Linked DNA regions of Homo sapiens. The protein of the gene in region 1 purifies or fractionates together with the protein of each later gene. This does not show direct contact. Each region holds a gene or a part of one and is shown in the gene's direction. Other genes may lie near its edges.

Region 1 (5,610 bases):
CTTGCTCACGAGCACGGTCCCAAGCTCACGTGTACCTGGAGCAGATTCGCAACAGGGTGGCTCTGGGAGTGCCTGACATGACAAAACGTGACTATCTGGTGGATGCGGCCACGCAGATCCGGCTGGCCCTGGAGCGCGATGTTAGTGAGGACTATGAGGCGGCCTTCAACCACTATCAGAATGGCGTGGACGTGCTGCTCCGTGGCATACACGGTGAGGACCGGGGCTGGGCAGGGCTGGGGTGGGTGGGGAAGGGCCAGTGCAGGGCTCTTCCTGTCACCCATCTGTCTTGTCCCCTGTCCATTTGTACTGAGTGAGCACGGCACTATGCTGGCCTGCAGGGCCTCCATAAAAGACAATGATAGCTGGCACTTATTAAGCAGTTTCTACATGCCAGGTACTATTCTAAGGGCTTCATGTAGATTCATTCATTTGAGTGTCACAGTAATAGAAATTACTATATATGTTGTTGTATGTTGTTCCAAGCACACAGGAACCATTTTTTACATTCTCATGTTCCAGATGAGGAAGCTGAGGCATGGGGCAGTTCAGTAGCTTGCTCAAGGCTCCACAGCTATCAAATGGCACAATTGGGGTTTCACTTCACAGGCTGTGTACTTGGCCCACTACACCTGACTGTTCCTGGAGCTGGGCTGGGCTCCTGCCCTCTGGGAGTTTGCATTCTAGTGGGGGGAGACTGATGAGTTGATTTGGACCATTATAGTCTCAGGTAGGAAGAGGATTAGTGGGGAAGTGAAGAGAGGAAAGAGGGAAACTGAGGTCAGACTGGGCCGGCCTAGAGCATTTTCTAGATGTTAGATCTCTAATCTGAGCACTGGAGAATGGTAGGTGCGTTATCCAGCTGAAGAACTGGCTAGAGTTCCAGAAAGAACATTCAAGGCCTAGAGGCGAGAGGGGAGGTCCCTCCAGGGCAGCATGAGGAACTTCCATGTCAGGGGAGAGGCTGGTGCTGAGGCCATTTTGAGACGCCTGTGGGCCCTGGTGGCCAGGCCTTGAGGTGGGCACTGGGCCCTTCCTGCCCTCTGGCTGAAGAGACCCTTCAAGCCTGGGCTTCCAGTCTGTCCAGCAAATTCCTTTATCCCCCGATCCTGGTCCCCACCCTAGCCTTCTTTACACTGGGCATCAGAGATGGAAGAAGCAATGCTCTCTGGAATCTTCTATCCCCTCCTCTGAAAAAATGGATGGGGAAATCCCCACCCTGTCCCTTCCCAGGGTGTGACAGCCGCCAGCAAGGCGGTGGGTGCTAATGGTGAAGTGCTGTCTGCTGAGGAGTGACCCTGGTTCCTAACCTCCTCCTGCCAGCTCCCTTCCTCCTCCTTCCTGGCTGGCCCCCCACCCCAGAGGAGGGGCTCATGAAGCAATCTGGGGGCAGAATCTGCCGAACCAGCCTTAGAAACAGGAGCTCACTCCTTGGGAGGGTAGAGGGCAGGCAATGGGAGCTGGAACTCCAGCCCTCCGAGGCCATGGCTGGGGACCCTGGTGACTCTTGTCTCCCACAGTTGACCCCAACAAGGAGCGACGTGAGGCTGTGAAGCTGAAAATTACCAAATACCTGCGGCGGGCAGAGGAGATCTTCAACTGCCACCTGCAGCGGCCGCTGAGCAGTGGAGCCAGCCCCAGCGCGGTGAGGAGACCCCCCCCACCCAAAGGCCTGAGCGGGAGGAGGGCTCTGAGGGGAGACTGCGGAGGCCCCGACACCCACAGGCCCGCCCTGGGCTGCAGGGCAGAGGCCGGCAGTGGAAGTCATTATTTGGGCTGGAGTGTGCCAGGGCGGCCCATCTTCTTTTCCTCCTGGCTTCCTCTCTCTCCCACGCCTCATGGTTCATTCATTTTCAAACAACTCACTGAGTCATCTCCAGTCGTCTGCCTCCCTCACAGAGCACTTGCCATGTGTGCACATAGACATCTGCCAGCCTTGCACACCGTTCAATTTACACGCTTATGTGTGTCCACACTCAGAGCCTCCTGATTCTGTCTCTTGTGAACCGGCATGCAATTTGGAGCAGACCCCGACACCCTTGTGTGCACACACACATATCTGTGTGCATGTATGTGCACACACACAGTCCCCACATGGCTTTCTCTAAACCAGTAAGTGTTCAGTGAGGGTGGAAAATGCACGCACGCTTCTTACCCCACGGTTGCGCGTACTCACGCAGCCCTCCTTGGCTCACTGCATCCTGTACGGCTGCCTTTCCCCAAAGTAGGTGCTTGGTCTTCAAGGCACGTTCCCTGAGACTCACACGTTCCCAGGTTACTTCCCTATCCCCACCTTGGGAGCATCTGCATCTTTTGAGATGGAGTCTCGCTTTGTCACCCAGGCTGGAGTGCAGTGGCGTGATCTTGGCTCACTGCAACCTCCGCCTCCCAGGTTCAAGCGATTCTCCTGCCTCAGCCTCCCAAGTAGCTGGAGTTACAGGCAGGCGCCACCATGCTCGGCTAATTTTTGTATTTTAGTAGAGATAGGGTTTCACCATGTTGGCCAGGCTGATCTCAAACTCCTGACCTCAAGTGATCTGCCCGCCTCGGCCTCCCAAAGTGTTGGGATTACAGGCGTGAGCCACTGCGCCTGGCCTAGATGGGGCTTTTGAGAGGGGGCTTCTGAAGCCCAGAGAACTTCATGGGCCTTGGACGGGCTCAGCAGAGAGGTCGGCCTGACCACCCTGGACCAGTATGGGTGCCTATCGGTAAAGGCCAGCTTTTCCACCCAGCCTGCCACTGTGGGGTGGGGCCTGCCTATACCCCTGCCCTCCCAGCTGTTCTCCTTGCATCCAGAAGCCCCTGCCTGATGCCTGGTGAGAAGGCCATGGCCAAGGAGGGCTCGGCCCTGAGGCTGTGTGTGGCCTGTCTCCCTCCTCTGCAGGGTTTCAGCAGCCTGAGGCTCCGGCCCATTCGCACGCTGAGCTCTGCCGTGGAGCAGCTGAGGGGCTGCAGGGTGGTCGGGGTCATCGAGAAGGTGAGTGAGTGGACACTCGCCTTGCAGGAGGGAGACAGTGTATGCAATTTGGGGTGGCGGTGGGGAGAGAGACATGATATGCTGAAAGCAGGTCTGTAGCAGTGGCCCCCACTCCTCCAGAGGAGGTGGGCAGGGGTCAGTGGGGAGTGCGAGTGCAGTTGTTTCCAGCAGTTCCCACCTCTCCCCCATCCCTAACACGCATGACTTTGGTCCTGGGTCCTGGGGAGGAAAATGCAGGGAACGGGAAGAGGCTGATTGGCCAGCCACAGTGGCTCACACCTGGAATCCCAGCACTTTGGGCCAAGCACCAGGCCAAGGCAAGAGGACTGCTTGAGCCCAGGAGTTAGAGGCCAACCAGGGCAACATAGCAAGACCCCATCTCAAATAAAATAAAATATAAAATAAAATAAAATAAAATATAAAAAGAAGAGGCAGACAGGCCCTTTCCACAGCCCTGCAGCTCAGATCCAGAAAACCTGCTCCTTGGGAGAGTTGGGACAGAAACTGCAGGAGGAGCGAGGAGCTATGCCCAGGGCACCCTGCCAGTCCTCGAGGCCCTGCTCACTCCCACTTCCCGCTTCCCACAGCACCCCCACCACACTCACCCTGAACCCCAGGGCTGCAGCCAAGACGCTCTACCGAGCACAGCTGGGGACTTCCTGCGGCTGGGACGTGCTCAACTCCAGAAACCTGTCCAGAGAGGGCCCGTTCTGGCCCGTCCTTGCCCAGGGCCTTGGCAAGTCTGCCCTTTTTTTCCTCTCCTGACCTAACTGTAACTTTACCCTGTCCCAATGCTATCTCGCATGCTTTGCCTTATTCAGGGCAGACAAGAAGATAGGAGGCGACGTCCCAACCCTTACTCGGGGCACTCATTGTTAGAGTGCTTCTGATTAGAAGGACAGACAATGAGGTCAAATCAGAGTCCAGCCAGTATGAGGTTCCCCTCTTCCCCTGAACCCTGGAATAGTCACCCAAGAAGTTCTTTACCAAGCTGGCTAAATGGAGAGCTTCCTAAAAATACAGATGCCCAAGAATCTGTTATTTAACATACTCACTGGGTGATTTTGGTAGATCTGGGGGCCCACAGAGAAAAGGAGACAGTCCTGTACTTCCCACAGGCAAGAGGATGACATGCTGCCTGAGGGAAGGCCCCGCGCTGGGCACCACCCCGGGTGGCCACGGGCAAGCCCCCTGCTCTCTGAGCTGTGGTTTCTTCCTCTGGAAAGTGAGATGAGAATTCTCCCCCAATGGGGTGATCTGGGAGGTAAAACAAAACAATTTTGGGGAAAGACCTGGCACATGCTGTGACACTGAGTACGTGCTTGATGGCTCTAAATACAAGTGACAGGAGTGAGCTGGGAGGCACGCAGGCTTCTGCTCCCGGGCCTTACTCCAGCTGCTTCTCCTGGGTCCCTGGGGCAGGTCCCAGACTGTCAGCGCAGGCCCTGCCAGCTTCCATCTGCCACGGTCCCCTCCCCACTGCTTGAGTGTCAGTGGCCACGACCCAACCTTGGCTGAGCACAGCCGTTCCCAGGGACTGGCCGGGAGGTGACTGACACCGTGCCTCCCGGTACGATCCCGCTGAACCATAGGTGTTGTGGTGAGAGGGGTTCTGAGCTGAGTATGATAGGAAAACAGCGAGTTGAAGTTATATGGCTTTGTTTCTTAATGATCGGAGTTCTTAGAGTGTTTAGGTGCAGATGTACACTGTGACACAGAATTCCCCAAACTTGTTTAGCCTCAGGAAAGTGGTTTAGGAATCCAGTGTTTCGAGGCCCCTGCAGATGGAAAGCACAAATTAAAGCCAAGCCCAACCATTTTTTTTTTTTCTTGACACAGGGTCTCGCTCTGTAGCTCAGGCTGGAGTGCAGTGGCGTGATCTCGGCTCACTGCAGCCTCGACCTACCAGGCTCAAGCAATCCTCGCACCTCAGCCTCCTGAGTAGCTGGGACCACAGTCTCAAGCCCTGCTATTGTCTTCTATTTTTTGTAGAGAGATCTCGCTGTGTTGCCCAGGCTGGTCTCGAACTCCTTGCCTCAGGTGATCCTCCACCTCCGTTTAGGCCTCCCAAAGCACTTGGGATTACAGGCGTGAGCCAGTGGCCCGCCGCATTCTATTTCAGGACTACCCTTCTTTTTTTTCTTTTTTATCCTGTCTTGGGTACTCAACTTAAGGACTTCACCTCCCTCCTGAGATCCTACTTCCTTTCCCTGTGTCATGCCCAAGCCAGGAGCATCACTTTCCTCAAATTAGGAAAGGTGTTACTGCCCCTGGGCCTGGGTCCCTGCAGCCAGACTTGGATATACTGTCACCCTTGTTCCATTCCACAGCTGTGCCCAGACAGATCTGGGCAAGTGGGCAGTGCCAGCCAGCAGCAACCCTCAGGCCCAGGGAGGAAGCAAAGGGCTTGCTCGGGATGATGCTTGAGTGACCCCTAACGTGTCCGGCTGTTAGGATAACTAAGGGCTGAAGAGATGGTGGCAGGGAGCAGTGAGGTGGGTGGGTCGGGACTTGGCAAGCAGCCAGAATACCCGAGGGCCTGGCCTCAGAGCCTGGGGGCCAGGGAGACATCACCGGGTATTTGCTGAGCCTCGTGCAGGAGCCAGGCTCTGAGACAGGGTGGAGGAAGAAAA
Region 2 (4,555 bases), on another chromosome or scaffold:
CAGCAGAACAGCAAAATGTGACCCAGGTGGCACATTCTCCACAAGGTTACAACACAGCAAGGGAGAAGCCAACCCGAGAGGTGCAGGAGGTAAGGGGCGTGAACTGGTAATCTATGGTTAGGTCACTTTCTCTGTCAAGTTGCCAAGAGGGGACCTGCTTTTAATATTGCCAACTTTTCTGGGAGAGCAGTAGTTCTCAAATTTTAGTATATCAGAATTGCCAGTAGGGCGTGATAAAACACAGATTACTGGGTCCCAGGCCCAGAGTTTCTGATTTAGTTAATTTGGAGTGAGGCCTAAAGATTTGCATTTCTAACTGATTTAGCTGGTCTGAGTAGCAAACTTTGAGAACTGCTGCTAGTATTTTCTTTCTTTTTTTCTCTGAGACAGTGTCATGCTACGTCGTCCAGGCTGGAGTGCAGTGGCACAATCTTAGCTCACTGCAACCTCCGCTTCCCGGGTTCAAGCAATTCTCCCTGCCTCAGCCTCCCGAGTAGCTGGGATTATAGGCGCCCGCCACCACGCCTGGCTAATTTTTGTATTTTCAGTAGAGACAGGGTTTCGCTATGTTGGCCAGGCTGGTCTTGAACTCCTGACCTCAGGTGATCCGCCCGCCTTGGCTTCCCAAAGTGCTGGGATTATAGGCGTGAGCCACCACACCTGGCCGCTGCTAGTATGTCTGAGAAAGGCTTTAATGGCTTTGTCTTTATTCATGTAGGTTTATTTGTCTTCAAGGAGTTGTAGTATCTGAGTTTTTCAAGGTTGGGGATTTTGCGGGGGTTAGGGTGAGAACGTTAAATGATCATGAGGATTTTATGTGACAGTCAACCCACTCAAATATTAAAGTTAATAATATATTTTAACTTGGAGCAGTGCTAGGTCTACACAGAGCATGTCAAAATTTGAATTAAATGACCTGTTTGACACTCCTACGGGTATGAGTGCTAGTCAAATAATACACCTTTTTATATTCTTGTTCTTTATAAAAATTAAGCCTTAAGAATATCTCATAAGTGAGACATCAGAAGTAGTTACCATTACCACTAATTTCTACAAAGGTTGTTTTTTTTTTTTCCAATCATCTGTAATAAAAAAATAGGCAATATGGTTATCTTTCTGACAAAGTGGTTGTTTTAAACTTTTAAGTTCAGGGGTACATGAGCAAGTTTGTTACGTAGGTAAACTGTGTCATGGGAGTTTGTTGTAAAGATTATCTTATCACCCAGCTATTTAGCCTAGTACCCATTAGCTATATTCCTGCTCCTCTCCCTCCACCTTCTGATAGGCCGTACAGTGTGTTGTTCCCCTCTATGTGCTTATGTGTCTCATCATTTAGCTCCCACTTATAAGTGAGAACATGTAGTATTTGACTTTCTGTTCCTGTGTTGGTTTGCTACAGATGATGGCCCCCAGCTCCATCCATGCCCCTGCAAAGGACATGATCTTGTTCTTTTTTTATGACTGCATAGTATTCCATGGTGTTTATGTATCACATTTTTCTTTATCAAAGTCTATAATTGGTGGGCATTTAGGTTGATTCCATGTCTTTGCTATTGTGAATAGTGTTGCAGTGAATGTGTCTTTATAATGGAATGATTTCTATTCCTCTGGGCATATACCCAGTAATGGGATTTTGCTGAGTCAAATGGTATTTATATCTTTAGGTCTTGGAGCAGTCTCCACACTGTCTTTCATGATGGTTGAACTAATCTGCACTCCCACCAACAGTGTATAACCATTCCTTTTTCTTCACAACCTCGCCAGAATCTGTTATTTTTGACTTTTTAATAATAGCTCTTCTGACTGGTGTGAGATAATATCTCATTGTGGTTTTGATTTGCATTTCTCTAATGATCAGTGATGCTGAGTTGTTTTTTTTTTTTTTTTGTATGATTGTTGGCCACATATATGTTTGTGTTAGTCCGTTTTCATGCTGCTCATAAAGACATACCCTAGACTGGTTGATTTAAAAAAGAAAGAAGTTTAATTGGACTTACAATTCCACATGGCTGGGGAAGCCTCACAATCATGGTGGAAGGCCAGGAGGAGCAAGTCCCATCTTCCATGGATGGCAGCAGGCAGAGAGAGAGAGCTTGTGCAGGGTAACTCCTCTTTTTAAAACGATCAGATCTTGTGAAACTTGTTCACTATTGTGAGAGCAGCACGGGAAAGACTTGACCCCATGATTGAGTTACCTCTAACCGGGTTCTTCCCACAACACGTGGGAATTCAAGATGAGATTTTGGTGGGGACACAGCCAAACCATATCAGTGTCTTCTTTTGATGTGTGTGTTCATGTCCTTTGCTCACAAAGTGGTTTTTAACATTAAAGAGAAGACTGAGAAAACTTTCCTCCAAGTTATGGGAATAATTAAGTTGATATGAGTAGACTTCATATATGAGCCTCTTCACTCTGTTCAGGGTATTCCTTCAACAGACAGGTTCAGTATCTTCATGGACTCTTATTCTTTCTCAGGCTCTTATGTTAATAACTAAAGAGAGCATGACCAGATCACTGGCCTGGCAGTTGGTTCTATTTTCTGCCCTTGTCAGACTGCCAGTTTACTGGATTAATCTTCCAGTGACTCAGATCTTCAGTTTTTCCATCTCTGAGGTGGAGATAGGAGTTATCTGCACTAACCTTCCTCACTAGGATATTGTGAAGATAAATGACAAGTGTTTGAAAGTACTTAGAGCTCTTTAGAGAAATATTTTTCTGTAAAGCCAGGGCAGTATTATGTCAAACTTGCCAGATATGTGAGGATGTCGGTGGAATGTGCAACTCCAGTTGTCCTCAAATGTCTGAGAAAGGACTTTTCTCCCCAGTTTATTAATACAGTCCAATTTCTCAGATTTGATAATTATATCTCTGCTAATTTAAGAATAGGATTTCACATTTATTTCAATTTTGGGAGAGCAGTCTAACCAAAGAAGATTTTTTTTTCTGAAGGTTAAAGAGAAAAAAAGAGTGACGTTTGTTTCTGTTGATATACTATATTCTCTTTCTTCCTCACTTTCTAGGTAGTGCAGATCATATAGAGATCGCTGAAACTTATAGGGAGAACTGATTTGAGTCAACTAATTTTAGAGGAGGGTTATTCTGAAAAAGCCATTTCTTCTTTTTCTGCTCAGGGTTTTCAATATTAGCAATAAAAAATGTTTACAAAAGAGTCCTGCTGGTTTACAAATAATTACTACTTTAATACATTAAAAATATTTTATTGTATCTTGTTTAACAGGCACTGTGTTGAACTAACATGGATGTTCATTAGTAATGGCATTCTTTTTTTTTTTTTTTTTTTTTTTTTTTTTTTTTTTGAGACGGAGTCTTGCTCTGTCGCCCAGGCTGGAGTGCAGTGGCGCAATCTCGGCTCACTGCAAGCTCCGCCTCCCGGGTTCACGCCATTCTCCTGCCTCAGCCTCCCGCGTAGCTGGGACTACAGGCGCCCGCCACCACGCCCGGCTAATTTTTTGTGTTTTTTTAGTAGAGACGGGGTTTCACTGTGTTAGCCAGGATGGTCTCGATCTCCTGACCTCGTGATCCACCCGCCTCGACCTCCCAAAGTGCTGGGATTACAGGCGTGAGCCACCGCGCCCGGCCAATGGCATTCTTTTTTAAATTAGTAAACCAAACTAGTAAAAACTAAACCCAACTCCTCAATTTTATTTCATCCTTCTCTTTTCAAATAATTACTGAAAACAAAATTTACATTGAAGAAAATTATGTAAACATTTCATCACTTGAAGTTTGAGGTTTTGTTCCTTTTTATTCTAAGGGAAAATAGGAATTAGAGTACTTCTGAGATATTGGTTACTTGGAGGTTTTATTTTCCAGGTTATTTACTGTATTCTTCACAGATGAAGTTTTGCTTATATTATGTCTATTTTATAAGTGAGATTACACAGTAAGAAACTTAAGTGACTCCATTGCAGCCATAAAGCCAGGACTATATATATTTCTAGACACCTTCTTCTGTTGTAGCCCCATGCCCCATAGACATGGAAATCAAGAAATTACATCATTACTTTTGAAATTGGAAGAGTGTCATTCCCAGTGATGTGCTTGGCCTAGGTGTCTCGAAATAATGATGTGTGGCAGAACCATGAAGCAGTTCCTGGAAGAGCAGAAGACACAAAACTCTATGCTCCCACCCATAAGGAGGCAGAATTTCAGGCTCCCCCAGAGCCAATCCAACAAGAAGTGGAACGCAGAGAACCTGAGGAGCATCAGGTGGAAGAGGAGCACAGAAAGGCCCTGGAGGAGGAAGAAATGGAGCAGGTCGGGCAAGCAGAACATCTTGAGGAGGAACACGATCCATCACCAGAGGAGCAGGATCGGGAGTGGAAAGAGCAGCATGAGCAACGAGAAGCAGCCAACCTCCTGGAAGGGCACGCGCGTGCTGAGGTATGAAGTCACCCGCTTCTGGTATGGTGTACTGGGATGGAAAACCTGGCTTTATTTTTACATATTAAGGTAATATATCACAATCTCTAAAATAGAAATGTGAGTGATTCTACTAAACATTATATGCTCATATTTAAGTTTTCTCTTGTA

Evidence for each region.
Region 2: the proteins of RPS6KL1 (region 1) and GOLIM4 purify together in Homo sapiens (affinity purification with mass spectrometry; one large-scale study listed by BioGRID and IntAct). This does not show direct contact.

Annotation. Positions count from the first base shown.
Region 1 is NC_000014.9:74,915,880-74,921,489, reverse strand, and holds part of RPS6KL1 (ribosomal protein S6 kinase-like 1), read left to right. Parts: coding exon 1-213; intron 214-1,520; coding exon 1,521-1,645; intron 1,646-2,884; coding exon 2,885-2,977; intron 2,978-4,969; coding exon of another isoform or gene 4,970-5,017; intron 5,018-5,610.
Region 2 is NC_000003.12:168,032,370-168,036,924, reverse strand, and holds part of GOLIM4 (Golgi integral membrane protein 4), read left to right. Parts: coding exon 1-89; intron 90-4,072; coding exon 4,073-4,405; intron 4,406-4,555. UniProt on the Homo sapiens protein: Plays a role in endosome to Golgi protein trafficking; mediates protein transport along the late endosome-bypass pathway from the early endosome to the Golgi.